2 separate regions of the Homo sapiens genome follow, and region 2 is linked to region 1. Evidence: fine-mapped expression QTL. A gene starts in region 1. The other region holds a variant in brackets. All regions are shown on one strand. Distances are between the middles of the regions.

Region 1 (2,911 bases):
GGGAAGAATATATTAGATATAACATAACAAAGCCTCTGTTCGATGATGCATGCAGTGGAATTTTAATGTTATACTTTTCCTACAAACATGCTTTTAATAAGGCAGTAAACTGTATTTAGCTAAAGATGAAAATAATTGATCCATTTTGAGCCATTAAGGTAGTTTATTTTTTTTACTTTACTTTCATCCTACTTTTCATTTTCATGGAAAGTACAGAGGTAATAGCAGATGAATTTCAATTAGTTTCAATTAGTGCCATAAATTGTTATAATGTATCGGGTTGCTGGGTTCTATCAGAAACCCCCCAGCAGAACACTCCAGGTTTTGTTTGCAGTTGAAAGCAGCATTTGAGCCTGTGATGTCAGCTCTTCTCCATGGCACTAGAGCAGTTCTAATAGTTTAGGGTAATTTACTTCTATAAATCCATCCAACTCTAGAGCCCGGAAAACCATGTCCTCTGGATGGACTAATTCCATCACAGAACCACTGTGTTCTCCTTTGGAAGCAGAAGATGTGAAATACAACAGTGACTGTGGGAAGGAGCTACTCTCTGGGGTGGTATCTGTGTGCGTCTGCAATGGGTAGAAGTTCAAAGGAGAGCCGACTTCCTCCTGGGAGTATCTCTTGTTCTTGATGCCCAATATCCACTGTTCTAGAACAATCCATCCACCATTCTCCCCTCACATCCCTGGGCTTCAGTAACATCAGCACTGGTGTTTGTTAGGATTCAGGGTGTGGTTCCCGGAGGGACATGTCACCCAACCACAGCCAGTGGGACACGATGAAACTATTTTTCACTGTCCTTGGCTCCCTTGCCCCAACTCACATGCTAAAGTATTTAAAAAAGGGGAAATTAGCACTGAGGGAGTAAAAATAAACTATGATGAAAACTGTCCACATTCCTCCTGGTGTTATTAGGGTGACATGAAGAAAAAGCAAGGACTGAAATGTCCAGGACGGTCACGGATGGCTCCATGCGACTTTTCAAACGTGCATAAGCACAGCCCTGCTCCTTGCTTTCCATCATGTGCCAGACTTCTAGCTTCTGGCTTCAAATGCCAATGAGACAGGCAGGTGGGAGGGAGTCCCTAGAAAAACTCCAACCAGCCTGCACATTGGGGTGGAGCCTCCGGAAATGCATGCCATCTGCAGTGGGGAGGAGCCTGGCCCCTCCTCTTCCTGTGTGGAACCTGGGAATCAAGTAGCCGGCTTGCCTTGCGGAGGATCCTGCTTCCCCCTCCTCCACCCCATTTTTTTCCTTTCACCCAGTAAAACCCTGTTTAACTCACCCTTCAAACCGTCTGCGAGGCTACGTTTTCGTGGCCACGGGACGGACAAGGACCCCATCTTTAGCTGAACTACGGAAAAGCCCTGCAACACCACCATCTCATCGCTGACTTGGAAATAAGCTAGCAGTGGCTGTGTCAGCAAGACCACCACATGCAGCAAGGGTGGCCACTTCCAGCTAGCTCCTGCATCCACAGCTGCCTCGCCCCTATTGGCTACTGCCATCCATGGTAAGCCATTCTCCCGTGGTCACCTTCTCTCTGCTGGCATGGGTACTACAGATGGAAAGGCCATTTTCCCAAAGTGCTATGTGTGTACAGCGGCACCCGCCTGGTCAGCTCCCATCCCTAAAAGGTAACCAGTTAAACTTGGACGTGGCTGGGTGCTTGCGGCCCGCCAGTGTCTGTCCCTGCCCATGCCTCTGGCTTCATCTCCTGCTGCTGCCCTTCACAGACTCTGCCCAGCCCACGTTGTTGGCCCAGTGTCTTTTGGACACAATCCAAACTCCCCCAGCCTCTCTCTCTTCTTATCCTGTCCCTCTTCAAGACTGAGCTCAAATCCTCCTTTCTCGGGGAGGCCTTCTCCAAACTTCACAGCCTCCAGGGCTCTCCTGAAGGCCACAGTGCCTCTATAGCTGACTGGCACCTGGTGTACACGGATCCCTGTCTTTAAATAGAGACTGATATCCTCAACTTCATCAGGGCCCTGGTGGCAAGGGCTGAGACTTCTACTCTAGGGTACCTTTAATTCCATCACACATAGAAGTAAGAGCAATGCTAATGGCAGCCTCTATGAAACTCTTTCTATGTATGAGAGACTGTCCTGAGTATGGCATGTAATCTCATTTATCTCTTTTCACCCTCTCAGCAACCCATGTGAGGTAGATATTATCTAGAATCTGAGACACAAAGCAGTTAAGTAACTTGCCCAGGGAAACGGCAGACCCAAGATTTGAACCCAAGTCACGTGACTCCAGAACCTGAGCTAGACTGACTTTATAAATGTCTGTTATTCGTGAGGAGGAGCTTAACTCATCCTGTGTAGCCAGCATGTTATTACTCTCATTACTAAGGATGAATTTTTAAAGAATAGCTTCAATTTCATTCAAGGGTTCTCTTGTCTTCATCTCAATTGACCATCTATTTCCAGGTAGGCCGAATGCAAAAAGTTTTGATAAAACTCACCATGTGGGAGGTAAGGAAAAGAGTTACATCCTGAACTGTCTTCACTTACATTCAGTAAAACATTTATTTTGCATTTACTATGTGCCAGGCACTATGCTGGATACAAGTGACACTGAGATAGAGTAGAGCTGAAATTATCAAAGAAATGGCTTGGAGCTTCAGCCAAGTATGGTACTGTAGATGTCTCAGAAGCAATGCTGCAACAGCTATATTCTTTTCAAAATGCAGTTCTGGAAAGATCACTAGGCTTTCTGCAGTATGAAAAGGGATTTGAAAGCCCAGCAATGAAACTCAAGTATCATATACCCAAAGTCTCAGTTAAGAAATAGAGGTCACAAGGTGACTGAAGTGATTTGGCATGAATTTGTATTTCTATATGGAATGCCCTCCCAGCTAAATGTATTTCAGCCTGCCAGAGAAGCCAATGGTTTATTTAGGAG
Region 2 (2,911 bases), 98 kb before region 1:
CCCCACCCCCACCCCCACCTCCGCTGCCGTTCCGTTTGGACCCAGACTGGGCCGCCTGCCTCCATCCTCTGTCCAGCCCAGCCCCGAGGAAACACAAAAGGCAGAATCTTCGGGGGACAGGGCAGAGAACCCCACGAGTGCGTAGTGGCCCTGATCGTCCAACACTGGGGAACAAATAGCCAAGCCACATAAAATGTCATATGCTGTGAGGAAAATGTCACTTTATTGAAAGAGAAGGAAACATTTTTCTGCAAAGCTTTGTATACCAGACAGATTTTGCTGAGTTTTACTTACGCTTAATTCCACTGAAGGTATTTAATTGTTTTGGATTTTCCCTCTGAAAATACCCTGGCGTAGAAATTAAACATGTAAAAATAGAGTCCACATGAGTCATAAGTTGTGATGGGGACAGTTGTTAGGCTTAATTAATTAAGGGGTTAATCAGGTTGGTTAATCAAGGGAAAGATATTTGATAATTTTATGTTTGTAATATTTTAACTCACACACTGAAAAGGGAAGAATGCATATAGTGAAATATATTTTGAAAAGTCTCACCCTAGTTTTAAAAATGCTGTGGTGAGTGCTAGTCTCCCCAAAAGTTAGAAATCTTAAAATGAGTTTATCTAAAATTTATAAACATATTTCTATCTAAAAGTAACTGATGTTATTTCCTTGCTCTTTTGAGCTCTGATTAATAGTGCTGATGAAATTAGAAGTGGGAAAAGGATTCCGAGACAGCTTTGGCCAATTTTATTTTCTAATCACGAATCCCATCTGGATTGTAGAATAGCATAGGGCGGGGGCTCGGCCTGCCCCATTCGGTCTTGCATATGTAACACTCCTTCCATTCAACAGATAACAGAGAGTTAGTCACCTTGTGAATCCTTTAAAAATAACAACACCCATAATTGTAAATAAGCCGTGGGGATGGGAAACCGGCACCTCTACCAACAAAAAAAACAAAACAACTCCTGCGTGAGTGAATTCAAACAGGGCTCTGAATTTAGCCAAGGGAATCTATTAAACGCTACTGAGATACTGAGATTCAATGAATCCGTTTCTTTTTCTTTATTTGTGGCTTCCAGTCTTGCTAGCGTAAATGAAATCTGCTTTCAGACGGGTACAGTCAAAATAAATGGAAACTTGAAAGGTACTAGTATTGGAAACTA[A/G]TTTCACCACCCGGGGCTGGAAGGAGTTAGGCTGCGCACGCGCGCACGCACACACCAGCGACCTCCAAGCAGGTGTAGCCCAGCCCGGGCCGTGGATCGCAGCCGCCTTCTGCGTGATTTTCTCAGAACCTGTGCACCCGCATGCATGGGGACATCGGGTCGAGATATTTGTCTTCGCCTGGGAAGAGCAAAGCGCCATCACAGTGCGCCCCCGACGCCGGCCTTGGCGCACGCGATTCGGAGAATGGGCCGCGTGAAGTTAAGTTGGGGGAAACAGCGCGGATTTGCCCCCCTCCAGGGGGGCTTCGCGAAAGTCAGTGAACATAAGGATCCAAGGCAGAGCACCCAAGGGGCCTTCCCCGGCTTCAGGTGACTCCTCCCCTTCCTTCGGGGTCCTGGCCAGCGCTTTGGAAAAATCCCGGGCCTCTTCACTTTCCCTTGCGGACCCCGCGGTGGGTTCTTCCTCCGACGACTGCGGAGCCCGAGGCCCCAGGCCCTCCAATTTCTCCTATCCTGGTGTGCGGGGATGCCGTCGGGGAGCGCGCCGGGGTTCACTCTGACCCTCACCACGGCTGGAAATCAAAGTCAAGGCAACAGGGAGTTTGTAGAAAGCGCGAAGCTTGGAAATAAGAGCAGAAGCGGGGAACTTCTGCGGAGGAGTTGGCTCCTTGGGGTGTCTAGGAGAACAGGAGGCCCTGGCCTCACGGGAGGAGCCGGGCGGGCCCGCATTCTCACCCCGCAGAGGGTATCGCGTTTGGAGACGTCGGCGTTGGGGGTGAGGTGTCAGCGCCCCTCATCACCACTCTGCTGCAGACTTCTCTTCTGGCTTCACAGAAGCCCCCACTCCCGGCCCTCAGTCCCCCGAGCCACAACCGGCAGGAACCGTGCGTTACCGCTGCAGTGCCCGCCGCCCGGAGGGACCAGCGCCTCCCTGCGCCGGGTGCGCCCGACCCGAGCCGGTGAGAGGCTTTGTATTTGCAGGAATGAGGGGTTGTTGTGTCAGTCCCAGGGGCACGCGAGAGACACGCGCAGCCCGCCTGGCCGCCACCCCGCCCGGCCCGGCCCCAGGCACCTTCCGGGCCTCCCGCCCGCGGGCCGTTGCCTTTGTTCGGCGCATTAGCATAAAGCTGCCAGGGATCTCCCGTTTAGATAATTCCACACAAAAGGAGAGTGCATGAAAGAGAGCGAACAAGGGACGATCCGCGAGGCTGCGTCGTGCGTCCTCGCGGGGAGGGACCGCGCTCAAGTATTTCCCTCCCCTCGAGTTTCAAGTGCCCCCTGGCAATCTGCTGCGCGCCCATTATTCGGCCGGGGGCCGACGGCGTGGCTGGCCACCTCTTTTATCCCCCCGAGAGTACCGTCGGGGCCACTGCACGCTCCTTGAAGTGCCCTCAGGGCTGTTTGTTTTTGCCTCAGTGGGACCGTCGGGCCAGGGAGGGAGGAGAGCGGGTAGGAAGGCCCGGGCGGGCGGCGGGAAGGGCGACGTCGGCGAAAGCTGGCAGAGGCGAAGCCCAGAAGGTGAGAAAGTCATAACCAAAGAATTAGGTCAGGGAGAGTCAGGACGGCACGGGACCCATCGGGATGACATTGACCTTGGGGCGCAAGAGGTGTCCTCCACCTGTGAGGTGCTGGCGGCCGCTAGTCCGTGCGCCTCGGTCTCAAACGGAACTGACAAAACCCAGCGAAACTGACCAGAAAGGCTGCGGCGACCCCGATCCTTTCCCCTTCCTCCCACCCCACTC

Alleles and levels. Alleles are on the strand shown, and positions count from the first base shown. SD is a standard deviation of normalised expression in the study named.
In carriers of allele G in region 2, the expression in prefrontal cortex of the gene that starts at base 1,174 in region 1 tends to be higher than with A alone (large effect, 1.1 SD a copy in ROSMAP).

What was found. PIP is the estimated chance that this variant, and not a neighbour inherited with it, causes the effect.
Region 2: its variant is fine-mapped to the expression of CFAP61-AS1 in prefrontal cortex (ROSMAP, PIP 0.92).

What each region holds. Positions count from the first base shown.
Region 1 is chr20:20,266,100-20,269,010 of GRCh38, reverse strand. CFAP61-AS1 (CFAP61 antisense RNA 1) reads left to right here and starts at 1,174. Exons shown (of 4, transcript NR_183979.1): 1 at 1,174-1,517. All of the region lies in intron 21 of CFAP61 (cilia and flagella associated protein 61), which reads right to left. RefSeq lists an enhancer at 1,445-1,945.
Region 2 is chr20:20,363,793-20,366,703 of GRCh38, reverse strand. No RefSeq gene overlaps it. Among named protein-coding and RNA genes, the nearest start is that of INSM1, 2.9 kb to the left of the region's middle. The variant A/G (reference allele first, on the strand shown) is at 1,170.